Linked DNA regions of Homo sapiens. The protein of the gene in region 1 interacts with the protein of each later gene in a pairwise test. Each region holds a gene or a part of one and is shown in the gene's direction. Other genes may lie near its edges. The genes, in order: ARRDC3, UBE2E2, RABGEF1 and CCDC50.

What was found.
Region 2: the proteins of ARRDC3 (region 1) and UBE2E2 interact in binary tests that used the Homo sapiens proteins (3 or more experiments, as listed by UniProt).
Region 3: the proteins of ARRDC3 (region 1) and RABGEF1 interact in binary tests that used the Homo sapiens proteins (3 or more experiments, as listed by UniProt).
Region 4: the proteins of ARRDC3 (region 1) and CCDC50 interact in binary tests that used the Homo sapiens proteins (3 or more experiments, as listed by UniProt).

The regions. Positions count from the first base shown.
Region 1 is NC_000005.10:91,373,300-91,380,326, reverse strand, and holds part of ARRDC3 (arrestin domain-containing protein 3), read left to right. Parts: intron 1-229; exon of another isoform or gene 230-879; intron 880-1,551; coding exon 1,552-1,633; intron 1,634-3,558; coding exon 3,559-3,706; intron 3,707-4,713; coding exon 4,714-4,816; intron 4,817-5,148; coding exon 5,149-5,405; intron 5,406-6,050; coding exon 6,051-6,213; intron 6,214-6,450; exon of another isoform or gene 6,451-6,488; coding exon 6,489-6,643; intron 6,644-7,027. UniProt on the Homo sapiens protein: Adapter protein that plays a role in regulating cell-surface expression of adrenergic receptors and probably also other G protein-coupled receptors.
Region 2 is NC_000003.12:23,528,317-23,535,343, forward strand, and holds part of UBE2E2 (ubiquitin-conjugating enzyme E2 E2), read left to right. Parts: intron 1-4,237; coding exon 4,238-4,385; intron 4,386-5,836; coding exon of another isoform or gene 5,837-5,898; exon of another isoform or gene 5,899-7,027.
Region 3 is NC_000007.14:66,792,721-66,799,747, forward strand, and holds part of RABGEF1 (rab5 GDP/GTP exchange factor), read left to right. Parts: intron 1-2,790; coding exon 2,791-2,872; intron 2,873-3,897; exon of another isoform or gene 3,898-4,013; intron 4,014-4,055; coding exon of another isoform or gene 4,056-4,172; intron 4,173-4,653; coding exon 4,654-4,786; intron 4,787-6,602; coding exon 6,603-6,694; intron 6,695-7,027. UniProt on the Homo sapiens protein: Rab effector protein acting as linker between gamma-adaptin, RAB4A or RAB5A. Involved in endocytic membrane fusion and membrane trafficking of recycling endosomes. Stimulates nucleotide exchange on RAB5A. Can act as a ubiquitin ligase.
Region 4 is NC_000003.12:191,325,306-191,332,418, forward strand, and holds the start of CCDC50 (coiled-coil domain-containing protein 50 long isoform), read left to right. Parts: upstream 1-4,088; 5' UTR 4,089-4,369; coding exon 4,370-4,418; intron 4,419-5,108; exon of another isoform or gene 5,109-7,113.

The DNA.
Region 1 (7,027 bases):
GCCCCGCCCCCCGGCCAGCAGGCTAGGTTGCGCGGGCACGGGCGCGAGCGCCGCGCGACGTATGCCGTATGTATAGCGGGGCGCGCGGGCGGCAGCGGCGGCGGCGGCGGCGCGCGGGCAGGCCGGCTGGGATCTGCTCGCGCCGGTTTAGGCCGGTCCTCTCCTGCTCCGGTCTAGTTCTTGATTGACAGCCCGGCACTTGTTTACCACGGCGCGGCCGCCGCCGCTCGCTTCAATGAGACTGCTGAGCTGGCACAAAAAGGGAGCGAAGAGGGAAGAAAGGGAAAGGAAGGCGAACTTCGGGCGCCTTCGAGGGGAGCGAATTTAAATGGCCCCCAGCTCATCAGCTAGTTTTTGGTTCTGAAATCCGTTCAGGGGAATTTGCACAGGGGACGAGGAAAATTGTATGGAGACATAAGCGAATCACCATGATTTTTAAATGAAAGTATCGACGTATACATGCTTTTTTCCCCCTTTTTCTCGTTTAATATCAGGGAGGCATCACGTTTTTTGTGTATATCCAATACTTTGCTGAAGGAAAGTTAAATAATGTGCCAGTTTTTTCTACTCTGGGGGCTAATCGTAAAGGTTTCTACACCAAGAAAACTTTAAAAGATATTTCTGTAATTATTTAAAACGCTAAATAGGCACTTTAATGATCTAGAACCCCCTCCCATATTTTCGATTATATTTATTTTCATGCCACTTGAAAAAAAATAATTTCACCAAAAAAATTGGTTGTAAAATGAAAGGTCATCCCTTTTTTATAGAAACTGGAAACTATTAATAGTTAGACTTCATTTTTTTCAAGGATGTTGGAAAATATTGTTTCCTTATAAGCCGACACCACCTAAATGCGGTTCTTTGTAATTATCTAAGGTATAGTTTATGCAAGTTTTAGTCGTTGCTAGGACCAACTGAGTGTTGTGATCATTTTAGATCAATAAATAATTATTTTTAGTTCAATAAATAATTATTTTTAGTTATAAATCTGACATTAAAATCAATGTGTGGCTTTTTTTTTTTTTTTTTTTACTCCGTCTATTTGACAAGGTTTTCTAGTGGTTTTGGAGTATCTATTCTATTCACATCTGGTATTATTATTCCCTATAAACTGACATATTTTAAGAGGGTTGCATGAACAGTTTTTCTTTGATACATTATAGTCTTAATGTGATAAATTTAAGCAAACCGTTGGAGACAAAGGATAGCATTGTCTTACCATGATGTGAGACCCGAGCCTTTTGAGTATATATACTATTTTATAAACAGATGCTTTGCAGTTTGGGTCATTTTCCATTAGAAAAAATAAAAAGCCTGTGGGGTGTGAGTATTCATTATCCCCATTTTACAGATAAGGCAGCTGACGACAGGATTTTTATTTTGTCCAGAGGAAATGATGAAGTTAGAATTAGAACTCAGATCTCTCAGACTCCAAAGCTTGTTTTGTGGTCTTAATTGTTATGTAAGCATCTTTAAAGTTATGCCACCCTGCGGAGTATGTAAATGTTGAATAATAAATTCTTTGTTTTCTTTTTATGTTTGTTTTAGATGATGATAATTCCGAAGAAGGCTTCCACACTATTCATTCAGGAAGGCATGAATATGCATTCAGCTTCGAGCTTCCACAGACGTAAGTATTATAAATAATAGGCATTTTTATAGATACTTATGATCAGAGCATTATTTTAAAATTAAGTATTCTAAATTTAAACATTTTTAGTTGAAAAAAAAACCCTTTTCATTACTGAAACTTGCTAGAGGAAAACAATATATTAAACATAAGAAGCTATTTTTTAATCTAGCGTGGCAAAATTATAGAAAGCATACTCAATTTTCAGTATTCTTTCCTAAAGTTTATGAGGTTTTTAAAATAGGAATAGGGTTTCCTTTAACATGAGTGAATTGGAAGTTGCTAGTCGAATAATAACCACTTTATACTTAGTTTATTATCAATTATCATTATGAGAAAAGATAGACCCTATCAAGTCTTAGTAGCTTCAATTTATAAAAAATTCTATATTCTACTTTTTCTGCTAATACTAACCAATAGCAGTAAGTTTCGAAAATAAAAATAATTAGGAATATCCTAACTTTAGAAATGTTTTTCTTCTGATATGAACTTAATAGCTTCTGTACAAAGAACTATTGGGAAGGTCACACAAGAGATATGACCCAGGCTTAAAAGGAAACATGCATCAAGGATACATTAATATAAAACTTGGAATCTAGTAAGAAAGGAAAAAGGAAAGTGGTATATTCTTAAAGTAATGACAGATTGTTGGAAGAGATGATACAAACTTTTTAAAAAAAAATGCCTTTTAACAAATATTAAAACCTGCAAAATGGCACTTGTGGTGATTATTCTGGAGAATAAACAGATTACATAAGATTTTGTCAGGTGACAAATGTACATTAATTCTGCATTTGTTAATTCTAGTGCTTGAGATGTTATATATAGAGAGAGAAGTCATAAATGGTATTTTTTAGAAAATTCTATTTACTGTATTATTTGAGAATTTTATTTGGAATATAATGCCCTCATCTAATTTCTGAGAAAAATATTAAAGTCTGTTGATAGAATAAGGCCAATATGGGGCCTGAGTATTTTCAGCGTCATTTAATGTTAAAGTTCTATCCATAAACCAAAGTCATTTAACATAAATTTTGGATAACTATTAGCATACAGTTTAAGATTTTATTTCTCTGCTATACAAGTTAATGTGGGAGTCTAAAATGCAAAAAAAAAAAAAAATTATGAAAACACCAGTGTTTCTTATGCTAATCTAAGCTAGCACTCTTGTAAATAACTGAACATTGAGTATTTTACTAATGAAATTATGAAAAAGATACTGAACTTGCTAAAATAAAACCTTCCACAAGTAAAATCTGACAGAGTTAAAAAAAATTTTTTTTTATTCTCTTGACATAGATCAAGAGGACTATATCTTTTTCTTTTGAAGCCCGTAAAGTTAGAGAACAGCCAAACAAGAATTAGAACATGAGTAAACTGAGAGATACAAAAGTAGTTTTTCAGTAAACTTAGGAAATGTGAAATTTTTGAAACTATAATGACTATTCCAGGCCTTTTCTAGACCTTAGTTAGTTGCTATTAAAAGATGATAATTCCCGGCTAATGAGAAGTGGAGTACTATAGGGAATTTGGTCTGAATGTTTAACCAGTGTCTAGAATTTATCAGTAGAAATAGTTAAACCATTCTCAACTTTGTGTTTGAATTCTTGGCCTTTTCAAAAAATGCCCATTAAACTTTCATGATTTTGCCACCATCATTAAAAGTAGCCTCCTCTTAGTTTAAATGGATTGTATTCTTCTGGCTTTTTAAAGCAAAATTTTAAAGATATTTATTGTTTATTCTTAGTTGGAAATAGGAAGTTTTTTCCCCAGTGACTTATCCCTTTGGAAATTTTTTAAATTATATGTTTGATACCTCATTGGAACATAAACAATACAATATATTAACACTTCTATTCTGACCTACTGTGTAATTGTTAGAAAGAGGTATAAAATTAATATATTGACCTTTATATTCTGCACAGACCACTCGCTACCTCATTCGAAGGCCGACATGGCAGTGTGCGCTATTGGGTGAAAGCCGAATTGCACAGGCCTTGGCTACTACCAGTAAAATTAAAGAAGGAATTTACAGTCTTTGAGCATATAGATATCAACACTCCTTCATTACTGGTAAGAATTGACTGAATTATTTATTCTTTGTTTTTGGCATATAAATATTAAAGAATAATCAATCACCTAAACTATGCAGTTGTCATAATTTAAAAATACTGGTTTTCTTTTAAAATTTCATAAATATACATTTTCTTAAATACAGTCAAGAACACTGAAATTAATGAAAAATATGCTCATATTTTTGACATTGTAGTATACCTTTAAGTAAATATAAAACTAAGACCAGTATATGATATGAAGTATCTCTTACTCAGAGTATGACAGCCATAACAAAAAACAGATCTGGTCCTTGGATGATTTGAGTGGAAGAAGAGCAGTAGTATCTTTTATTATAATACAATATCACTTACTTGACAATATCATAATCTAAAATTTGTACTATACTTTGTTATTCCAATAGAGGGATAGTTGTCAAATAATGGGGAATCATTAGTTTCATTAAAAAACTCCTTTTTTAAAGAAATCTATTTTTAATTGCATTTGTCTGAAAATAATTCAAATTTGACTTAAAACTTTATTTGATTTAAACAAATGGTAACATCTTTAAAGCACATAAGAAATGGGCATTTTCCTTTTTTACATATTGATTTTTTAATAGTCTCAGAGAAAGATGTTAACATTTGGAATTATAATCAGATTGCTTTCTTTGCTGCCTTTTTAAGGCAGTTTAAATGGAATGTGGAAAGGGTTTTTTTTATTTGGTTGGTTTTTGATTACTATATTTGTAAATAGTGTGAGCTAAAAAACTATGTTTATGGGATAGGCTGTAAACCCTTTACCTTTTTTTTCTAATTGAATGGAAATTTATATGAAAATAAAAGTAATGGTATAATTCAAAACCATCGGTTAGTTAAAAAATAAGAAGTATGTCTGGATACAAAAAAAAAGCAAAACCAGTTGTAATTTTTAATTTTCCATAAATTTAGGGTTATATTTTAAAATATTCTGGTATTGATTGTACCAATCCATACACTGACCTTTTTCTCTTAATTTTTTTCTTACAGTCACCCCAAGCAGGCACAAAAGAAAAGACACTCTGTTGCTGGTTCTGTACCTCAGGCCCAATATCCTTAAGTGCCAAAATTGAAAGGAAGGGCTATACCCCAGGTATGTAAGAGGTAGATTCCCACAAAAAACTTTTCTTCACTTAGCTTTTGTGTTTAAATTTATAATATGACTACTAAATATAAACATAATATAGTATTCTTTTGTGAAATAACAAATTGTGCTTATCCATTTGTTTTTTTCACAAAGTAGAATGTAGTTTCCTTTTTCAAATAGCTACTGATTAGTTCATTTCTATGACTCAAGTTATTTGCAGTTCCTGGGACATCTTTTCATGTATGTTAGTTGCACTTTCTTACTTTAGCTTTAAGAATCTTGACTTCTTTTGTTGTTTTTTTCTAACAGTAGATATGTATATATTTTTCCCTCTCTAGGTGAATCAATTCAGATATTTGCTGAGATTGAGAACTGCTCTTCCCGAATGGTGGTGCCAAAGGCAGCCATTTACCAAACACAGGCCTTCTATGCCAAAGGGAAAATGAAGGAAGTAAAACAGCTTGTGGCTAACTTGCGTGGGGAATCCTTATCATCTGGAAAGACAGAGACGTGGAATGGCAAGTTGCTGAAAATTCCACCAGTTTCTCCCTCTATCCTCGACTGTAGTATAATCCGCGTGGAATATTCACTAATGGTATGTACACATTTAAGAGGTTTTTTCCTTTCTTTTTTCTTTTTTGAAACACCTGTCACCCAGGCTGGAATGCAGTGGCACAGTCTCAGCTCCGCTACAGCCTCTGCTTTCTGGGCTCCAGTGATCCTCCCACCTCAGCTCCCAAGTAGTTGGGACTACAGGTGTGCCTATAGCCATGCCTGGATAATTTTTGTATTTTTTGTAGTGATGGAGTTTGACCATGTCGCCCAGGTTGGTCTTGAACTCCTGGGCTCAAGTGATCCATCCACCATGGCCTCCCAAAATGTTGGAATTATAGGCATGAGCCACAGTGCCTGGCCCAAGAGGTTTTTGGTGTTTTTTTTTGTTTTGTTTTTAAGTCTTAAAGTTATGACATAGTTTTGTCTTACATCCAGGATTTGATTTTTTTAAATTCCATATATAGTGACATATAAAATACATAACTCTTTATATAGTTTGACTTACAATTATACCTTATATGTAAATGTACTATACAGAATTATACATAAAAGAGAAACTTTTCATGTATGTAAGTTTAAAAATGAAGTAAATGGGGGTTTCAAATAACATTAAAATTGGTTATGAGTTTTTGAAAAGGAAATCATACTTGGCATTCTAAACTTAATATTTCTTTGCAATGTTTAGGTATATGTGGATATTCCTGGAGCTATGGATTTATTTCTTAATTTGCCACTTGTCATCGGTACCATTCCTCTACATCCATTTGGTAGCAGAACCTCAAGTGTAAGCAGTCAGTGTAGCATGAATATGAACTGGCTCAGTTTATCACTTCCTGAAAGACCTGAAGGTAATTTGATAATACACGTCTAAGCTTAATCTCTTACTACTATTATCAAGAAAATTATTTTGCCTCTGATATTTTATGACCCTAGATGAACATAATCTTTTCCTAAAGAAAGTAGATGTGCCCCTAATATTCAGTTTTGATTATATGTCTTCATAGTTTTGATCACCAAACAATAATTATTTTACCTTGACGTTGCTTTTTAATACCTACTATTCTGTGTATTTTGACATGCATAAGAACATGCTGTTCGAATTGCGTGTATCTTTTTCCTTCAGCACCACCCAGCTATGCAGAAGTGGTAACAGAGGAACAAAGGCGGAACAATCTTGCACCAGTGAGTGCTTGTGATGACTTTGAGAGAGCCCTTCAAGGACCACTGTTTGCATATATCCAGGAGTTTCGATTCTTGCCTCCACCTCTTTATTCAGAGGTAAGTACCTACTCCTTAAGTATGAAATGAACTGGCTATCTTGGGAAATAGCATTGCAGGCATTTTTTTTTCTTAATGTTATTAGATCTTGATTATCATGTTAACAGAACAAATAATTTAAAACAACAGATTAAAAGTTAATATTAGGTTCATCAATATTTACTAAGTTTGATGCAGAGGTAGGACTGTTCACTTATTAGGGAATTAAGATAATGATCTAACCTCATGTTGAATTACTAATTTTTTTTTCTCTTAAACTTTTATCTTGAGACACATTTTTTGAAGGAAGAATTTTGTATATCCAAGCATCAATAGGAAGAACTAGCATTTTGCAAACACTGATTAAATAGTAGAATTTATCTTATTCATGATGCTTTTCCAATT
Region 2 (7,027 bases), on another chromosome or scaffold:
TTTGGAGAAAGAATTCTGCCAAGCTACTGGTTTAGCCAGAGAAAGAGAATTCATTGAAGGAAAATACAGAGTAGGGAGTTTATCTAGAGAGACAGTACACTCTGAAAAGATGAGGCAGGGCGAGCTGCTGAAAGAGAGTGAGCCAGCAGCACCCCGAGAGTGGTGGGTTTTTATGATTTCAGATTTTTTCTTGAAGTTCCTGCCTCTTTCTTAAGTCTCCGCCTTTTTACTTTGTTTAGTTTTCTGCATCTGCCTTAAGTCCCTGCCTTTTCCCTCACCTAGTTCCCGCCCCAAGGTTGTGGGACCCTCCCTTACTATTGGTGTGCACGCGTGAACCCGATGTTGGACACAAATTGCTTCTGCGTATCTCTTAGGAATTTTCTCCTTTGCCCTCTTCCCTTTAGCATGCATCTAGCTACATTCTGGCAGGTTAACTGGCAGAGTGAGCAATCACTGGGGTCTTAAGGGGGATTCCTTTCTGCCTAGGTATTTCCCCTCCTGTCTGTTCATATCTAGCACGCCTGTTTGGGGTGATCCCTGGGGCATGAGATTTTCCAGACTCCTTTTCTCAGGGCAGCCCTTCTCCTCCTCATGTCTGTTTATCTGCCTATTCTACCACATCTATGCCGTGGAATACTACTCATCAGTAAGAAAGGAACAAATTATTGACACGTGCAACAGCTTGGATGGATCTTAAGGGAATTGTGCAGAGTGAAAAGAACCAATTTCAATTGGTTACCTACTATACGATTCCATTTATATAGCGTTCTTGAAATGACAAAGTTGTGGAGATGAGGACAGAGTTGTAGTTGCCAGGAATTGAAGTAAAGGGAGAAGGCAACTATGGCTATCGCAGGGTACCATGAAGAATGTTTGTGATAGAGTTGTTTGTGTGTTGACTGGTGGTATTCACACAAATCTATACATGTGATAAAATTACATAGAACTAAATATACTTAATATGCATGAGTGCACATAAAAATGAAACTGGAAAAGGTCAGTGGACTGTATTAATGTCAGTTTCCTGCAGTATACTGTAGTTATACAGGATGTTTTCATTGGGGAAAATTGAGTGAAAAATACATGGGATCTCTTTATTTCTTACAACTGTACATGAATCTACAATTATCCCAGAATTATAAATTTTTAACGAAAGAACAGAGGCATTGATGCTGAGAGACAAACCGTAGGCTTTTGGATCAGCACAATTGTGTTCAAATTCTGGCTTCCACTTACCACTTGTGGGATCTTGAGCCAGTTCTTTAACCTCCCTTTGCCTTAGTTTCATCATTTTTCAAGTGGTTGCCAATAATATTATTTTCCCTATTGAGTTGTTTTGAGGGTTAATTATCAATATTATGTAAGCCACTCATTGGTTAAATTGGGATCGTAAAAATATTTTATCTTTTCATTTAGCACTTAAAGGGATAGGCACTCTGCCTTCTCCAGAGAAATTTTAATATCACGAGATAGTCTCTGTTTCATTAACTTAGGCTAGTGTCTTTATTTCTTCTTTCATGGAGTTTACTCTGTTGTTCTTTTACTACCTTCCTGAGTTGGACACTTAACTCATTAAATATCTGTCTTCCTTCCTAATGTATGTGTTTGAAACTGTAGATTTCTCTTTTACAACTGTTTTAGCTGAGTCACAAAATTTTGATATTGGCAACCCAATATTTTCATTGTCATTCAGCAATAATAGTAACTGATTTTTTTCTTTGATCCAAGAATTATTTGAAAATGAGTTTTTCAGTTTCCAAACATATGATAGGGGGATCTTTTATATGTAGATTCTGACTTTACATTATGGTCTTAATAATGTCAATTCTTTGAAATATGTAAAGCTTCTTTTGTGGCTTAGCATGGGATCAGTTTTTACAAATGTTTCTTAAATGTTCCTTAATCATTAAGTGTAGGATTGTGTCTTCATTCACTCCCTTGATTTTGTTTATCCAATTGTTCAGATCTCCAATATCCTTACTAATCTTTAGTCTGGTTGACCTATCAGTTACTGTGGTGAAAATGTCCCTCTTTGATTATAGCTATGTCATTTTCTCCTTATAATTTTGCACATTTTTACTTTGTATACTTTTGGCTATATTGTTAGATACAGCACATTCAGAATTGTTACTGTTTTCTTGATGAGTTGTTTATTTTATCAGTAACGTTCTTTGTTTCTAACAATGCTTTTTCCCTTAAACATATTTTGATCTGATAATATAGTCATTTAAGCTGTTTTTGTTAGCTAGTGTTTACACAGTATATGTATCTAGGATTTAGAATTCTCAGGAAAAACATTTCTCTTCTCATTCTAGAGCCCACGCTTTCTTTGGTAAGTTTCTTTGCTATCTCTGTCATAAGGCATATCTTTTCAAGTCCATGCATTTACTGAAAGACTAGCCATTCGAGTTTCCTAATTGATATAAGGGCGCTCAATTCTAAATTCTTGCAACATACAGGCCTAAGATTTCATCTTCTTTTTCCATGAGGGCATCAAAACCCAAACCTCCACTTTATTAAGACTGAGTACCATCTTTTACTCCCTTCCCTCTTCCCAAAACCCCACCCATGGCAGGTGCAGTCTCAGCTTGTTGCGCTTACTATAATTTTTGGTTTTTAATTCTGGGCTCTGGGAATTCCCCTTACAGATTTTGCTATGCATTTTAAAGAATGTTGGTTATATTTTCTTCAACATTTCTAGGCATTTAAGATGTGTATGTAGGTGTCATGGATTATCTGGTCTGGCATGATGCTAGAAGGGCAGTTCTCATTAGAAGTACTAATTTAACCTGAGAATGATGTCTCTTGTTCGACAACCACATAAGTCTCTAGATTTGCCCTTTCTGAGACTTCGCATCATGTAAATTACATAAATCTGGTGTTTGACTGGATGCTGGATGCCCTGGTGGAGTGGCAGCACCTGCAGAGATCTGCATGTGTGTTTTTCTTGGTTCAGAGCTATTTTGAACATAGGGTACCAAAAGACTGTCTTTAGAACCCTGAGATTTTTGTATATTTCAACTTAAAATTTAAGAACATTTATGAACATAATATTAATCAATAATATTCACATCTTATTGCCGTTTACATAACACTTTTATTAAACAGTTTTAGTAGTTATAAAACTGATTTGCACTTAATTATTTTCGTAGTTATAAAACTGATTTGCACTTAATTATTTTCAGTTGAAGTGTTTTACAAATGATATGGTCATGTTTCACAATTACATGTAAGCAGCATACAGTGGTGATCTAGCTATCACAGGGCAAAGGTAGGATGCACTAATATTACGTTTTAAAAATAAAATTTAAGAAGGAAAAGGTTTCTAAATTACAGCTAATTGTAACTAGTAATATAACTAAAATAGTAAATTGTAACTACTATAATTATACTAATATAGTTCTATGAACTGGGCATGTTATTTATATAAATGCCTTAGTTTATGTTTTAAAACTGTGTTATAGGCCGGGTATGTTGGCTTACACCTGTAATCCTAGCACTTTGGGAGGCCAAGGCAGGCGGATGACTTGAGGTCAGGAGTTCAAGACCAGCCTGGCCAACATGGCAAAACCCTGTCTCTACTAAAAATACAAAAATTAGCTGGGTGTGGTGGCGGGCACCTCTAATCCCAGCTACTTGGGAGGCTGAGGCAGGACAATCGCTTGAACCCGGGAGGTGGAGGTTGCAGTGAGCAAAGATCACGCCACTGCACTCCAGCCTGGGCAACAGAGCGAAACTCTATCTCAAAAAAAAAAAAAAAGAAAAAAAAACTGTTATAGAATAATATTTATTTTCTTTGTATTAGTACTCTCATGCTTTTTGGTGTTTGAATATTATAAATGTACAAAATCCTTAAAATAACTGGAATCTAACAAAAGTTTTCTTTGAAATTTTTTAGAAGTCAGAGTCAGTTTCTCCCCATGAACATTCCTGTAGTTGTATCAAAAGTAAATTCAGTCCCTAAAACATTTGTTAAATAACAGGACTCTTTATAAGAAGCAGAATGTCATGGTTTTGCTGTTGATGTTTATTTCTCTGTGCCCAAAATGACAAATTCTAAAATGATGATCTCTGTTGATTAATCTCATGTGCCCAAGAAAAAAATCAAGTGTATGTTAACCAATAGCCTGGGCTATTTTGTCTGATAAAATAGGCAATTTTATTAGACAAAAATTGTCTATAGATACTGTTAATAAACACTTTGTCTAACAAAATATAACTTTACATTTTCTTGTAGGTTACCTTCCGAACAAGAATCTATCACTGTAATATTAACAGCCAAGGTGTGATCTGTCTGGACATCTTAAAGGACAACTGGAGTCCGGCTTTAACTATTTCTAAAGTTCTCCTCTCCATCTGCTCACTTCTTACAGATTGCAACCCTGGTAAGAGACTTTAAATCTAGTATGAATTGGAGCTTGTCAAGATTTAAATGTCAGACCCTTAGTAACTTGTTTACTACTGCTACTACCACTACCACCACTGCTTCTACTACTATTATTGTTAAATTTTCATAGTATGTAACTATTTTCTTTTTAAATTGGGTCTTCTCATTAGTGTTTTTAAGACCTATCATTTGCCAAAAAGGAAAAAGTATAGTGTGGTAAAAAAAATAATGAAAAATCATTTTAGATGGGAAAGTACGTTTAAAGAATGAATTAAGTTATCCTGCCAAATAATAATAAAAATTCAAGTTGAATAGCTTAATCTTTAATTAGATGCCTACTAGAAGATGTTAATTTGAGGAATGTGGGCTATTAAAATCTGATAACAACCAGGCAGCACCATGCAGACGTGACCTTTTTGGCATCCTAGTAACTGTGCATCCTGACAAGCTATTATAACGGTCCTGAATGGTCTGTTCTAGGAAATACCCCAAAAGTAAACAAGGAAATACACCTCCCAAGAAAACGAAAAAGTCTATAGCCAGGCCTTTATGGCTTGCTGGTGTGCTTACCACTGAAAATTCTTAATTCCTGGGCCATGTCTTTACAAATTGGGTTTATTTTAGAAAATACAAAAATCCAAAGATAGCTATAGGGTTTTCATTGATGTTCTCAGTGGGAGAATTATTTTATGAGTAATTAATAGCTTAAATATTGCATGAGATTCCCTCTTCTACAATCATGAGTAAACTCTGTTCACTGGATACATGAAATTTTACACAAATGGAAATGACGAGTATCAGTGGGGTTGCTTAGGATCCTGGCTGTTTTATAAAACATCAAGAAATAACAGTCTTTCTACTTTTATATTTCTTTATTTTTCAGCAGTAAAATCTTTTTTAAAGTAGCAAATTAGTATTTTTTTTTTTTTTTTTTTTTTGAAACTGAGTCTCACTGTGTCACCCAGGCTGGAGTGCAGTGGCACGATCTTGGCTCCCGCAACCTCCGCCTCCTGGATTCAAGCGATTCTCCTATCTTAGCCCCCCAAGTAGCTGGGATTACAGCCGTGTGCCGCCAAGCCCAGCTTATTTTTGTACTTTTAGTAGAGACGGGGTTTCACCGTGTTGGCCAGCCAGGTCTCGAACTCCTGACCTTGTGATCCGCCCGCTTTGGCCCCCCAAAGTGCTGGGATTACAGGCATGAGCCACTGTACCCAGCCTGCCCAAAAAATAAAATTGTGCAGGATCATTATAAAATATTTTTTGAATTAATTCATACTTTACTACAGACAGTAAAGTCCAATAATGTTATACTAATTTAAAGTTAATTTTGTTCTTTCAGTCCTGTTGTTCCCATTTTAATCCCATTTGTCTGTGACTGTGTATAACCTTGTATAACCTCATTTGGAGGTAATGTTGCAAGAAGGCTTTTTTTTTTTTTTTTTTTTTGAGGTGATTTCGAAGCCTGGCCTGCTTTGCCTCCAAGTCAGCTGAAATGGAATCTGTTACCCTGAATAAGCCTGTATATGACAGCCTGTTCTCTCTACAGATATTCCTGCTTAAAGGAATAGATTCATTCCACCAAAGCCTTCTCTCAGCAATCAAAAAGACTTCTGTTCAGTGAACTAGTTTTTTTTTTTTGCTCCGTTTCAGAAAATTACAAATGCATTCTGCAAAAACTTAAAAATCACTCCTAACTAAAGCAGAACCACATAAGTAAAAGAAATAGATTTTGAAATAATGCTATTGATAGTAAGAACAAGCCTAAAAATAATGTTCCATAAAACCAAAGACAGCCTGCCTCATATGAGACTAGAAGAGAATTTGTAAAATACATGCTAACATTTAGTTTATCACACTTTTTAACACATAAAAATAAAGTTTCCTAATTGGTTTTTATGAATGTTGACACTTCTAGAATCTTAAATAGAGTTGTTTATTTTAAAGTAGTCAAATGTCCATTCTTTTGCTTAATGGACTTATTTCACACTGTTATCTGGTACACTTTCAATCTCTGTAGGTTTTTTTACCTACAGAGGTAGGAAAGATTAGGTTAGATTGAAGTTTATCTTAAATCTATCTTCAAATTATCACAAAAACAAGTTTGATAGAATAGGAATAAATAAGATTTTCCTACACTGAATCTGTAGAGCTATTTTAACCCGGAAATGCTGTCACCTCAAAAATAGGCCTTGTATAATGATACAAATTTAACTCACTTAAAAAATACTTTCTCACTCTTATCCATACATAAACTTATTTTCTAAATCTTTTTCATACTCTTTTTGTAATTTGCACTTGTCTCTTTAAAGAATTTTTGGTCCATTCCAACACAGATGTTCTTTAGGGTATGACTACCCATCCTTATCAGCATGATATTTGTAGACAGCAGATGTAGATTTGAAAACCAGTTTAATTGTTTATTAGTCATATCACATTGGATGGGTCACTTAACTTTCCACAGGCTTAGTTTTTGATATAAAATTGGGATTAGTACCAGCCCTGCCTAAATCACTGGATTCCTCTGAGGTTAAAATGAGATGGTATATGTGAAAGCCATTTATAAATGGTAATGTGTTGTTGATATTGTTACCCAGAGTATTTGGGACACCAAATGGGCCCACAATAGGTGACCGATAAACA
Region 3 (7,027 bases), on another chromosome or scaffold:
TCTTCAGCATCTTATAAAGGGAGGAATGGTAATAAATGGCCACATTTATTCATTCAACCCATACTGAGCACTAACCCTGTGCCTGGCCTTGTTCTAGGCATGAGGATATGGTGGTGAACAGTGCCCTTGTGGAGCTAACATTTTAGTTGGGGAAATGGACAATAAGCAGATCTGTAACATAGTGTTAAGTCCTACAAGAATGGAAAGCAGGATGAGAGACAGTGGCAGGGGTGAGTTCTTTTACATTATGAAAGCAATACTGTACTGGAGCATAAACTGCAGTAGAAATAGAAAAGGAGTTTTCGGCATTGTATTGTAAAATTACAGGGGTTGTGCTGGGCTGGGGGAGGAGAATATGATCCCTTGACACCAGTAAGACAGGCCTCTCGGGTCTCTAAAAGGAGCTCAGAGAGTTTCTAGTTGGAAGCGAGCACTACAGGTTGAGTATCCCTTATCCGAGAGCCTTGGGACCAGAAGTGTTTCAGATTTTGGGGTTTTCCCAGATTTTGGAATATTTACACATATATAAGATAACTTGGGACTGGGACCCAAGTCCAAACACAGAATTCATTTGTTGAATATATGCCTTACATACATAGCCTGAAGGTAATTTTATACCACATTTTAAGCAGTTTTGTGCATGTAACAGTTTTGGCTGCTTTTTGACTCTAGCCCATCATCACATGAGGCCAGGTGTGGAATTTCCCACTTGTGGTGTCATGTCGACACTGACAAATTTGGGATTTTTGAGCATTTCAGATTTTTTATTTTTGGGTTAGGAATGCTCAAATCTGTAGTAATAATCACAAGAATGAATATAGTTTCTTCTAAGTTAAGTGCTAAAATTTGGTGCAAATGAAAGGTGTAAAACCATGTGTAAACTACCTAAAAAGATTGAATGGATAAGCTTTTGCATAAAATACTTGAAGTAGAAGGATAGATTTGAGCACTGCAGTGTGTGCATGTATATGGGTAACTAGTTGACAGTAACAAGGGCTGCAGTCAAGGTGATCACAAAGTGCCATGAGTGCTTGGCCATTTTTACTGAGGGAATGAGGTGACTGCTCCTGACCCCAAGTGTCCTGCCATCCTTTTAGAGTTAAGCCAGATGGTCAGACTGCTGTGGGCTTCCACAGGATGTATCGGCCCTTGGCGTGTGAGGTCAGTGGCCTGTGTAGATGAAGTCTGTGACAGCCCGTCCTGGGGGTTTGTTCTCGGCCTTATTCATGTTCTTCTACTGTGACATCCTTATGAGAACCGTTGGGAGAAATTTTTGATTTTGGTGTCAGAATTTCACCCGAATAATTTGTTTGCTTTCATCTTTTGAACCCTGAATTACATAACTGTTTTCATCCTAGTGATGGTTGCTAAAAAATTTAGTTAGAGACAGATGTATGGGCTGACTCTTGACTAATTTAGACATCTTCCAGGAAAACATTTCTGTCTTGTCATCTGTGGCTCTGCTTTAGGTCTCTCTCCATGTTTAATTTTTTTTTTTTTTTTTTTTTTTTTACTTATTATTGTTAAAAAAATTTTTTAATTTCTTTCTTTCTCTTTCTTTCCTTTCTCTCCTTTCTCTCCCCTTTCTTTCTTTCCTCTTCTCTTTTCTTTTCTTTCTTGAGATGGGGTCTCACTATGTTGCCCAGGCTGGCCTCAAACTCCTAGGCTCAATCGATCCTCTAGCCTCAACCTCCCAGAGCACTGGGATTACAGTTATTTGTTATTCTTTTTATTTTCTAGTCTCTTGTGCTGAACTGCATTTATCTTTTAAATAGCCTTTAAATATTCTTTGGCAGAAAGTGAGAAACAAATACATATATTACACCTATAAAATCAGTAAAACCAAATAAAAATTATCAAGCCCAATGTTGTAAGGGCCATAGGGAAGTAAGTGCATACACGTGGTTAATGACAGTGTGCACTGAGTTTCTGAGGAGTGTGGCTAGCAATAGATACTTAGTGCTATAACATTGTTTATTCATATTAAGCGGTTAATGCCACTTTTGGAAATGTATGACAGAGAACCGAAAAGAAGATAGTCCTTACAAAATTATTTATACCTACAGTGCACAACAGTGAAAGAGGGGGAGCAACTCAAATGCACAGTGGTAGAGGAGAGTCGAAGAAGTCAGTTAATATAATGCAGTGTTATAAAGCCACCAGAAATGATTCAGTGGATTAGATAAATAGAAATGTACATAAAATATGTAAATTATCAAAACATGCATTAAATCTATTTAAGAATACGTAGATTTAGCAAAAAGAATGAGATGGTCATGGTGAGACCGCTAGGTGGGAAGGGGTCCCCGGAAAAACTCCAGCCAGCCTGCCCACCGGGGTGGAGTTTTGGGAAGTTTGCACCATTTGTAGCAGGGAGGAGCCTGGCCCCTCTTCTTTCTGTGTGGAGCCCAGGATTCTAGCTGCTGGCAGGAAGCACTCTAGCAGGGACTCTGGCCTTGTGAGTGTCTCGGATTCCCCCTTTTCTTCCTTTTCACCTAATAAAACCCTGTCTTACCCACCATTCAAACCGCCTGCGAGCCTAAATTTTTGTGGCTGTGAGACGGACAAGGATCCCGTCTTTAGCTGAACTAAGGAAAAGTCCGGCAACAATGGATATTGGAAATAATATTAATGGATAGGTTTTACTCTCCTGCAGGATTAATATAACCTGTGAGTACTTTTAGGCTTACTACCAGTACAAGGAATGGCTTTTGGAAAGTTCTTAGAATGTAGAGCTGTGCTTCTGCACTTTGTTCAGCTACAAGCAGCCTCTTTGTCTCTCTGTTTCAGGATCTAAGCATTGAAGAACAGTCAGAGTGTGCTCAGGATTTCTACCACAATGTGGCCGAAAGGATGCAAACTCGTGGGAAAGGTAACACTGTTAGCCATTGAGAGATTGCGGGTATTGCACAGGGATGACTGCTCAGTCTCTTAGCAATTTCTTTCTTTCTCTGATGGTCTGGCTGGTTTGTAGACTTCATCCTGTAACCTCATGGACATTCTGGGAACTGGTCTTATACTTAGCAGTGCCTTTGAACTGTACCATGCGTATCTTTCCAGGAGCAATTGGATAATTTATTGAGTAACATTTAATAACTCCATTGGGGCAGGGCTGGAGCTGACGAAAACATCTTAGGGCCTGGCTCAGTAGCTCATGCCTGTAATCCCAGCACTTTGGGAGGCTAAAGCAGGCGGATCACGTTAGGCCAGGAGTTCGAGACCAGCCTGGCCAACATGGTGAAACCCCGCCTCTATTAAAAATACAAAAAGTAGCCGGGTGTTGTGGTGCACCTCTTATCCCAGCTACTCGGGAGGCCGAGGCACAAGAATTGCTTGAACCCGGAAGGCGGAGGTTGCAGTGAGCTGAGACTGTGCCACTGCACTCCAGCCTGGGCAACAGATCGAGACTCTGTCTTCAAAAAAGAGAGAGAGAAAGAGAAAAACTTATTGGAAGGCTTTGCTAAATGAATTTTCCATCTTGGAATCACCATTTTGGTGAGTTATTGTATTAATAGTTTAAAAAAAAAAGAGCTTCAAGTTTTTAGGGATTCTTTATGGATTCAACCTTCACTGATACTAGACTTTAGGATATACTTAGCACATGTGTGTGTCAGAGAAATCTCCATTTGTATACCTCAGAGAGCTCTACGATGTTATGGTAAACCTCAGAAAAATGAAAGGATAAGTTTCATCAGCATTCATCAGTCTTGGGAGTTGCAAATGCCTTTGTAATGTAGGACAGGGAGTGACCTTGCTGAAGTCTCCCCATTTGGCAGGGTGTACACTGTTAGGTCCTGTCAGACAACTTCAGTTAGAACTGAGGTTGCTGTGGAAGGCAGCCCAACAGTTGGAAGAAGATTTTTTTGTTTGTTTGTTTGTTTGTTTTTGTCGAGACAGAATATCACTCTGTCGTCCAAGCTGGAGTACAGTGGTGTGACCTCGGCTCACTGCAACTCTGCCTCCCAGGTTCAAGTGATTCTCCTGTCTCAGCCCCCGAGTGGCTGGGATTACAGGTGCGTGCCACCACACCCAGCTAATTTTTGTATTTTTATTAGAGAGGAGATTTCACCATGTTGGCCAGGCTGGTCTTGAACTCCTGACCTCAGGCGATCCACCTGCCTCAGCCTCCCAAAGTGCTGGGAATACAGGAGTAGAGCCACCGCACCCAGCTGGTAAGTTTTTTTTTTAAGCGTATTTTTAAATATAACATTCTTATACTTTTGTTCTGAGTGTGTTTAATTTATTTCTAGTAAATTAGTTTTTTGCTGTGTAGACAGTGCTATGAAAATATACTCTTGGCCGGGCATTCTGGCTCACACCTATAAACCTAGTACTTTGGGAGGCTGAGGCAGGTAGATTGCTTGAGCCCAGGAGTTCGAGACCAGCCTGGGCAACATGGTAAAACCCCATCTCCACAGAAAAAACCTACAAAAATTATTCAGGCATGGTGGCGTGTGCCTGTGATCCCAGCTACTTGGGAGGCTGAGGTAGGAGAATGGCTCGAGCCCAGGAGGTGGAGGTTTCAGTGAGCCAAGGTCATGCTGCTGCACTCCAACCTGGGCGACAGAGCCAGACTCTTTGTTTGCAAAAAAAAAAAAAAAGAGAGAGAAAAAATATATATATCTTGATCTTTTCTCTGTCTGGTTATTTCAGTGCCTCCAGAAAGAGTCGAGAAGATAATGGATCAGATTGAAAAGTACATCATGACTCGTCTCTATAAATATGTATTCTGTCCAGAAACTACTGATGATGAGAAGAAAGATCTTGCCATTCAAAAGAGAATCAGGTAGTTGCTTATTTTGTTTTGCTTTGTAGTTACTACCTTCTAATGGAAGAACACACTGGGGGGAAAATAATGCACCTGTGTTTCAAACCTTAAGGGAAAGCAATAGCTCATGTTCCTGCTTCCTTAGAGTGGAAGCAGCTCTGTTGTGTAAGAAAGACGAGGAATGTGGTGACCTCACCTATCCATCTCCCTCAAGGCAGCTTTTGGTAAGAGTTGTGTTTGGTGTTTGAGATTGTTTTCAATCCCTGAAATCTCCAAGGAATAGGGGGACTGTGTTCTTGGTCCATTACCATCTCCTCAAGTGGGAAGCTGTGAATATCGGTATCAAGGCAGGGGATGTCGGCTGGGCCCGGTGGCTCATACCTGTAATCCCAGCACTTTGGGAGGATCACTTGAGGCCAGGAGTTCAAGAGTAGCCCAGGCAACGTGGTAAAACCCCGTCTCTACTAAAAATACAAAAATTAGCCAGGCATGGTGGCGCACGCCTGTGATCCCAGCTACTTGGGAGGCTAAGGCACGAGAATGGCTTGAATCCAGGTGGCAGAGGTTGCAGTGAGCTGAGATCATGCTACCACACTCCAGCCTGGGCAACAGAGCAAGACTCCTTCTCAAAAAAATAACAAGTCAGTAGATGTCCTCTTTCCTCATTCCTCCCAGGGGTGTGCATTTTTCAGCATTCCCTAGTCACATCTTTCACTGGCATTGGATTGATGACATTTCCCACAGCACCCAGTCTTCCAGGCTCACTGGGGTGAGCCCCAGCACTGTGTACTCCAGTTGCGGTGGACACTGAGGAAGAGACCACCCAAGTGTGGGAACAGGGCCAAGGCTGAGCTGATGAGGTGTTTTAAGGGGAGAAGGGACTCGGAGTCCCAGGTTCCAGACAAGGGGCTGGTACTTGCTAGATCTGTATTGGAAGTTTCATAGCTGAAGTGAGGAGTTGATACTGGGCAGGCTGAAGATGTGGAGCCCAAGGTCAGGAGCCAGAAGTAACTAGAGGGGCCCTGGACCAAGATGCAGAACAGAAGCAGTAACCAAGCAAGAGGGCAGGCCTGCTGCAGGGTAGTTGGAGTGCAGTTAGGGTGGGACCAGGAAACACACAGTGATTCAGGCATGGTGGTCCTGCCCGTGGCCTCCTATACAAGCTCCAGTGTGCCTCAGAAGTTGAGGGTTGAGGCCAGGTGTGGTGGCTCGCACCTGTAATCCCAGCACTTTGGGAGGCCAAGGCAGGCAGATCACCTGAGGTCAGGAGTTTGAGACCAGCCTGGCCAGCAGGGTGAAACCCTGTCTCGTAAAAGTACAGAAATTAGCTGGGCATGGAGGTGGGCGCCTGTAGTCCCGGCTGCTTGGGAGCCTGAGGCAGGAGAATTGCTTGAACCCAGGATGCAGAGGCTGCAGTGAGCCAAGATTGGCACTCCAGCCTGGGCAAGAGTGAGACTCCATCTCAAAAAAGAAAGAAGTTGAGGACTGAGTGTAAAAGGACATTAACGCAGTAGGCAGCGAGGACAGGCAGCAGCCAATTCTCAAATGGTCACTTTCAGATACTGAGTGCATTTCAGTCTTGGTAGCACTGCGTAATGTCATTTCAGTCAGCAAGATGGCCTTCCATTCTTGTGATAAATGCAGAAGTCTCATTTTAGGATCCTAGCTGCTTCATCACGTCATTAGAGCTCGTAGTACTTGCAGGGGTGATGTGTGTGGGCCTGGGATTGAGTGGTCAGTGATGCCTCAGGCTTTCCCTAAACTGAAGGAGGTGACAAGACAAATGGCCACAGTTTATCCTTGGAGCTCTTGTTTACTGTCTCTCTCTCTTTAGAGCCCTGCGCTGGGTTACGCCTCAGATGCTGTGTGTCCCTGTTAATGAAGACATCCCAGAAGTGTCTGATATGGTGGTGAAGGCGATCACAGGTCAGTGAAACCAAGAGCCTTTTTATTGGGATGTTTTCCCCTTAAAGTTAACATTTTACTGTAATATTCATCTATACATTTGTAAAATGCAGATTGTCGAAGGTACATTGGAATGTAGTAAAAGTGATTTGTAAGATTGTTTTATGAATTTGATGGCATTCAGAAGAGCAGGTTCTCTTTTACCCCTTTATTTTCAGGGATTATGGTCTCGTTTCTTGGGCATTAAACTAAACTAAGGTCAAATGCAGATAGAATAAATTTTTTTTCTTTTTTTTGTACTTCTTTTTTTATTTAGTTTTTATTCAGCTGACTGTTCCATGATAGAATAAATTT
Region 4 (7,113 bases), on another chromosome or scaffold:
AAGACATATGTTCTAAAAAAGGCAATAAGATAAAAACCATGGCACCTCCAGGTCCAATGGGGTCTAGGGTATGTTAGAAGAAACAGCCTCTAATTTAGAGGGCTCTTGGAAGAGCAATGTCCCCAGGTGACCCCTGAGTTCCAGTAGGAAAAGAAGGGAAAGGGAATAGTTACAAAGGAGATATGGGGAATTTTGTGAGTAACTGATAGTGAATTCCATAGGGTGAGGGGACTTGAGCAACTGAGGAAAGTTGAGAGCATGAATAGGGTTGGGGAACTTACATATGTTATGAGAGTCCAGACAAAAATGCTTCAAGGCCTGGAGTAAAGAGGCCTAAACTGTACGGTTGGATTATTGTCCTAATAGTCTCTACTATGGGCTGAATTATCTGTCCCTAAGATTCACATGTTGAAGCCCTAGCCTCCAGTAATTCAGAGGGACTGCACTGCAGACAGGGTCTTTAAGGAAGACATTTGGGTTAGCCCTAATCCAATCTGCAAACTAAAAAGAGGGATTTCAGAAGAAACCAAATGTTCTGACACCTTGCTCTTGGACTTCTAGCCTCCAGAACTGTGAAAAACATATATAATAATTTCTGTTATTTAAGCCATTCAGTCTGTGGTATTTTGTTATGGCAACCTTAGAATATTCATACAGTCTTCTTGGTGAAAGTGAATAACAGTTCTAATTGCATCCTCATTTTTGGAACTGTTCTCTTAGGTATATTATGCTGATGAGCTAGGAAGCACTGGGGGCCAAGGAGACAGATAATTCTTTCCAGAAGTATAGTTCTGTGGGTCCCCTTTCCTGTTTTGCCAAGGTCCAGTGTAATTTATTCATTTGCCTATATTGTTTTTTTAACTTACTTTTAATTTGTGATTCTTACTGATAATAAAATTGGATAACTATATTTATTTATTTATGCAACAAATATTTATTGAGTGCCTATTATGTGCCAAGCACTTTTCTAGATACGCGGATATTAGGGAATCAAACAGATAAACCCCTGCCCTCACAGAGCTTACCTTCTAGTAAGGTAAGCTCTAACTGGGGGATGCTTTTGTGGAATTTGGTAGTTTTCAAACTGGAGTTTTCATTTCTTATGACCAAAGTCTCCCTACTCCAATCCAAGCATTTTATTGTTACCAAATTCACTTTATAAAAGTAGAAAATGTATCATGTAATATCCACCTAGAAAAAAAAATCAATTGATGCCTCCATATTGCCTTATAAATAAAATCCTTATTTCTCTCTATGGCATTCAAGTTGTGATTTGATGCTGAATTACTTGTTTGGCATCTGCCCCAAATTAGGGATCTGTATCCATCCTGAGAAGCCTTATGCTTTCTCTTTTATTGCAAAATGGACATTTCAGGACACCAAAAGATGTAAACTTGTTACAGAAATTCACCATATGTTCATTCCCTATAAATACTCAAAAGATACTAGCTCTTCCCCGTGTTACTGTCAGTCCTTTGCTAGAAGTTGCCTACTCTGTAATGCTGAGCTCTAATTGTTTGCTCAGCTTGGGGACCTATACAGAACAGGTGTGGAGTAGGAGAAGGAAAGCCCAACTATGGGGTGGATTTCCAGGTCATCTGCTCTAGTACCTGAAAAGGGCTCCTGGTTTTCATTACTTTTTCTGCTGAAAGCAGCCGATTCTCTAAACAATAGTTGTGGCTATTATATATGTTTCCATTTCTTCTCTAGGCCAGAAATGTGGATATTTTTATGCATATCTTACTGTAAGCACATCATATTTTAAGCATATCTTACTTTTGGCATATCTTACTGTAACAGTCACAGTCTAGGTAGGAAACAGGAGGTGCACTGTAAGTGATTTTACTGAAAAGAATGTAATGAAGAGACAATTTCAGAGGTATTAACTGGGTTAAGAGAACTAGGGGAGGCCGGGCGTGGTGGCTCGTGCCTGTAATCCCAGCACTTTGGGAGGCCGAGGTGGGCGGATCACTTGAGGCCAGGAGTTCCAGACCAGCCTGGCCAACATGCCAAAACCCTGCCTCTACTAAAAATACAAAAGATTAGCCAGGCGTTGTGGTGCACACCTGTAATCCCAGCTACTCGGGAGGCTGAGGCACGAGAATCACTGGAACCTGGGAGGCAGAAGTTGCAGTGAGCCAAAAGGAACTAGGGGAAGCCATCACACTCTAGGCCTGAAGGGACACTGGAAACAAATTGTTTTATTAGAGACCCATGAGAGCTGAGGCCATGGAAAAGAGGCCTCTACACAGGCCCTGTAGTCATAGAGGGACAGGACTGTGGCCAAAATTTTGGGTTAAAGGAAAGAAGAATACTCTGATATTTCTCTCCTCCCTTCTTTTGATTTTCTGCCAGTGCTTCCCATTGGTCAATCACAACAGGAAGCCACAGGTCAAAGGGGCCTAGTGATTTATCTGTAGGCATCCAAAGGCACGGCTTGGTAGAGAAGTAGAAACGATAGATTTGGGGAGGGAAACAGAAAATACTGCTGTTATAAATATTCTCTAGACCACAGGAAGTTAAAAAAAATTACTAGATTACAGGACAATTAAAAAATTCCCATAAATCTACCTTTCTAATACCACTTCCTTCTTATTCCCACATTTAACCTGCTGAGTGTTATCTCTGCCTAGCACTGGGGTGGGTAAACTTTTCCTGTAAAGCATATTTTAGACTTTGAGGCTTAAGAGGCAAGGTCGAAAATATTATGTCCTATTTATGTAGTGATTTGAAATGTAATTATTTGAACATATAAAAAACAGTCATTCAAATTCAGTGGCGTAGATTTGGCCTGTGGGCTATACTTTGCTACCCTCTGGCCTTGAAAGTCTTCTAAATTTTTGCTAGCCTAAAATCCACCTACTTTTCAATGTCAAGTTCAAATAAAACCTCCCCTACGTGGCCTCTCATACTGGGACTCTGAGCTGTGAGTGACAGAAAATCAACTATTACTAGCTTAAGCAAAACTGAGGATAAGTTGAGAGTTTGCGGGTTGTAGATCCCAGAATCCAGGAGTTGCTGAAATGCCAGCTGCTCTGGGGATATCCTGCTTTGCTACTGTGGTAACATCAGAACATGCCCTCTTCATCTCCCTTTCTCTTCTCTTTGCTTCTGTCTTCAGTTTGGCCTCATCATCTCCTAGAGGCAGATCTTTTCCACAAGAAACAGAATATGTAACTCTTTATGTACCCAGGAAAGTATTCTGTTTGACCTGTCTTGGTCACCCAGCCACCCTTCGATGAACCCATGTCGGTGGAGGAAGGGGGAAGAGTGATGGGGTAGTCTCGAGGTTCAGACATGGCACACGTTTGGGAGAGAAGCTCACCTCTGAGGAGTGGGGAAAGAGGCAGTTTCCCAAAAGGAGGATGCATTCTGTTGCCAGGAGATGAAACAGGAGAGGTTGTCTATTTTAGAGAGATAGAAATGTCACAATTACAATCCAATGTGTGCAGCGCTATAACAGAGATAAGTCTGACGCCTCGTTATCACCCACAGTACCTAACATCACACTTGGTAGACACATTCATGCGATTTTGATGAATGAATGACTCAGTTCTCCCAGCTGATTGTGTACACACTCTACTCCAAACTGGCCCAGAATTTTATCAGCTGCTCTTCATTCTGTACGTTGTATTTGGGGTTTTTATGGCCATCTACCATCTCTCCTCTAATTCCGGGTGCAAAAAGAGTGTATGAGAGAGAGGCAAGCATGCAGTAAACATCCTGTGTTAATCTCAATCCCAGAACCAGACCACAGAATGCTGACTACACCGCTCACGGGAAAGACTATGTTTTAGGTGACCCGTGTGGCCTTTTTGTTGAGGCCTTTAGGATACAAGGCCCCCACCTAAAGACGCGACCCTCCCGTAGGAGGGGGGCAGGGCCCGGGGGCGGGAGCACAGCGGGGCCCCAGCCTCAGGCGGCGCGTCACTGAGCACAAAGGAGACAACAGCGAGGCGGCAGCGGGCGCTGATCTTCGCTCGCCAGCCACTCGCAATTGCGGTTACAGACCTGCAGCTCCCCCTCCCCCAGCCGGCCCGCCCGCCTTTCTGTCTCCTCTCTCCCTCCGTACTGGACGGCCCCGGTCCATTTCCGGGCTCCGGATATTTGGTATCGATTGGGGCCGGGGACGCGGAGCAGGTGGCCGCGGCGGGGCAGCTGGGCCGCCAGCTTGGTGCCTCGGGGACCGTCTCCCGCTGCTTTGGTCACCAGCCCCTGCCCGCCCGACCCGCTCCGTTCTCCGGCCTGCGAGCCCTGCCGGCCGGACTTTGCGCCGCGTCCGGCGCTGCTGCTGCGCTCGGGGCCCCGCTCGGCGCCGGCGGTGACCGGGAAGCCCGCGTTAAAGGGGCAACCGGGACCCTGGCCCGGTATGGCTGAAGTCAGCATCGACCAGTCCAAGCTGCCTGGAGTCAAGGAAGGTAAGGGCCCCGGAGGGAGAGCGCGCGGGACCCTCCCCTCTCCCAGCCCGAGGTTCTCTCAGGTCAGGGGCGTTGCCATTTCGGCTCCCGCGGCCCTCGCCCGGTGCCCGCCCTGCGTTGGCCTTGCCCGGACGTGAAAGGAATTGAATTCAGGTTCTAGTGTGGGACGTTGGGCAAGTCTCCGACGTTCCAAGCCCGTTTTTTCTCAAGGGGGTGGTTGGGGGGGGGGGGGGCTAGCAGCAGCCCCAGCAAGTAGGTGGCTGTGCCCGTGTTCTCGTGCATCGCAAAGCCTCAGTGGACGCTGAGAGCCGGGTGAATCTGACTTACTCCGCTTCTAAAAAATCGAGGCCCAGCCTGGCTGGCTTGAAGGCTGGGAAGTGGAGAGGGGTTGACATTCAGTTCCGTGTGGAGCCTTTGTTTTGAAACATGACTCTTTCCCTCCTTCTCTCCCTACTTTTCCTAGGCCGGCGTCTGGCTGGCTGACTTTCCCACCTTCCTCAAGGTTTAAAAGTTTAGTCTTGGCTGTGTTCTGCGCGGGCGGGAAGCCACTATAAGCATTTTCTTACAAACAAAACACACACACACACACACACACACACACACACAATAGTGAGCGAGGGGAACAGGGGACTGATGGCCTTGTCATTGCTTTTTGTACCAATGTCCAGGAAAGTAGAGATTAGTACTGACCTGGCTTTAGCTGACAGCAAGTAGCCTTTTGACTTCCCTTCTCTTGTTTTTCCACTAGCTGCCTCAGGACCTAGCTTTTTTTTGCTGAGATCTTAGGTGCTGGATCGCCTTATGCCTTGAGTTATCTTTGTTTATTCTTTGGTCCTAGGAAGCATAGACGTTCCAGAGTGCTGACGCAGACCCCTAAGTTCCAAGGGCTTTGCAAAATCGGCTTCTGTTGTGAATGTCATTTGTATCGATTGAATACTGTAGCCTGAGGCGTCTTGGAGATGTGGAATTGAAAATAGTTTTTGCTTTCTTGGAACCGCTTGTTTTATTGCCAACTTAATTTGACTCCGTTGGTCTTGTGTGTGCTCAGGCCAGCCCAAAAATCTCAGGAAAATGAGGGACTGCTTGATTGCTTTCTCAGAGTTTCAAGCACTAGGAGACTAGTGACTAGTGGTCACTGATTTTATGTAGAATTTCTGATGGGCCTAGTTCTGTCTTACTGTTCCGGAAGGGTGTTAAAGCTTAGGCGTGAGATTTTAGCGTTAATACTTTTCTACCTTTCCGTCCCTGGTATGGCTTTGATGAAGACTTAGGGCTTTCACCTGTAGAAAACAGTTTTCACTCTGCTGTCAAGACTAAGGAGGCTGAGCGATAGGAAAGGCGGATCCATACTTTTGAGAGTTCTTATCTTAGAGATTGTCTGGTTATCCTTTACTTTTGGATATGAGGGTTTTTTGTGTGGGTATGTGTTGGGTTTGTCTCTAGAGAAAGAGTGATCCTTGTGCAGTGTGTAGTGCATGGTGAGTAGAATGAGAATTGGAGTTCAAACAAAACCTGGTATGTATAGTATTAATCATATGGTGCTATGATTTTATCCAATCCCCTATTCATGTGAGTGAAAAAACATAAAACTCTTCATATACATTTATATTACCCTTAGGTCTTCTGATTTCGTACCAAGACATGAATGATGTATTCTAACATATTATTTCTCAAGGAGTTCCACAAACACCTTCCATATAAAAATGCAAGATTTTTCCATTTCCACACTCTAGAGTCTAATACATTTAAATTAGCTTTCATTTTGCGTAATACGGTGTTTGGCAATCTCTTTTATGTAATCTGGTAAATTGGTAAGAAAATTCAGTGTGGCTCTTTCATTAAGTTACAATTAAATATTAATTTTGAAGGTGGTCAGGAATCGATGAGATCACTGTCTTTGTAAACATCTGACTTTTCTAGTTCCAAGATCATCAAAGGAAGTGATGTATTATACTAGGAATGTCCTACTAATGGTGGTGAAGTTTTTGATCTGAGAAGTATTCAAGTCTAATAAAGTGTATCCTTCCCTAATATAACTCTTAATTATGGCCCAGTTACTCCCTAACAGTGTCTTTATCCTAATTAAAGAGAATGAAGCTTGTGCCCCTGATAGGGTAAAACATGTGCAAACATTGAGACTGTGGTAATATTGAAACTCCAACTTCATTTGAGAAGGGTTAGTAGTAGTAATTAGTTTAATATTCTGATGCAGATTTTTGAACCCCATTCAAAAAAATCCCTGTATCTGTCTCCTCTACTTTTTAATTTAAACTTTTGATAGATATATATGCAGTTACAATTTATATTCAATTTGGTATCATGGGGTAGATTCCAATAGAGATTAAGAAGAATAGTGCAGTGAGTGTGTGCCCGTTTCCATTGCTGTTTAGGAGGGGATGGGGCACCCTGTGACCTTTTGTCGTGAACATTTCAATAGAGGTCGTGGGTAGCAGCTGACATTAGGGTAAGGGGATATTTAAAAATCTTCTTTCCTAGGTTGAAATCTAATGCTTGCTTACTTAGTTTTTAAGGAAGTCAAAAATATTCATCATTTGGACAGACCTTTTGAAAAAACACACACACATACACCTATGGTAGTATTTATACCTTGGTAAATCTCTTAAACTGGGAGACAAAGGGAAATGATTGAGTTCATATGTAGGTGAAAAGAATCAAGTCAACTAAGTGTCAACAC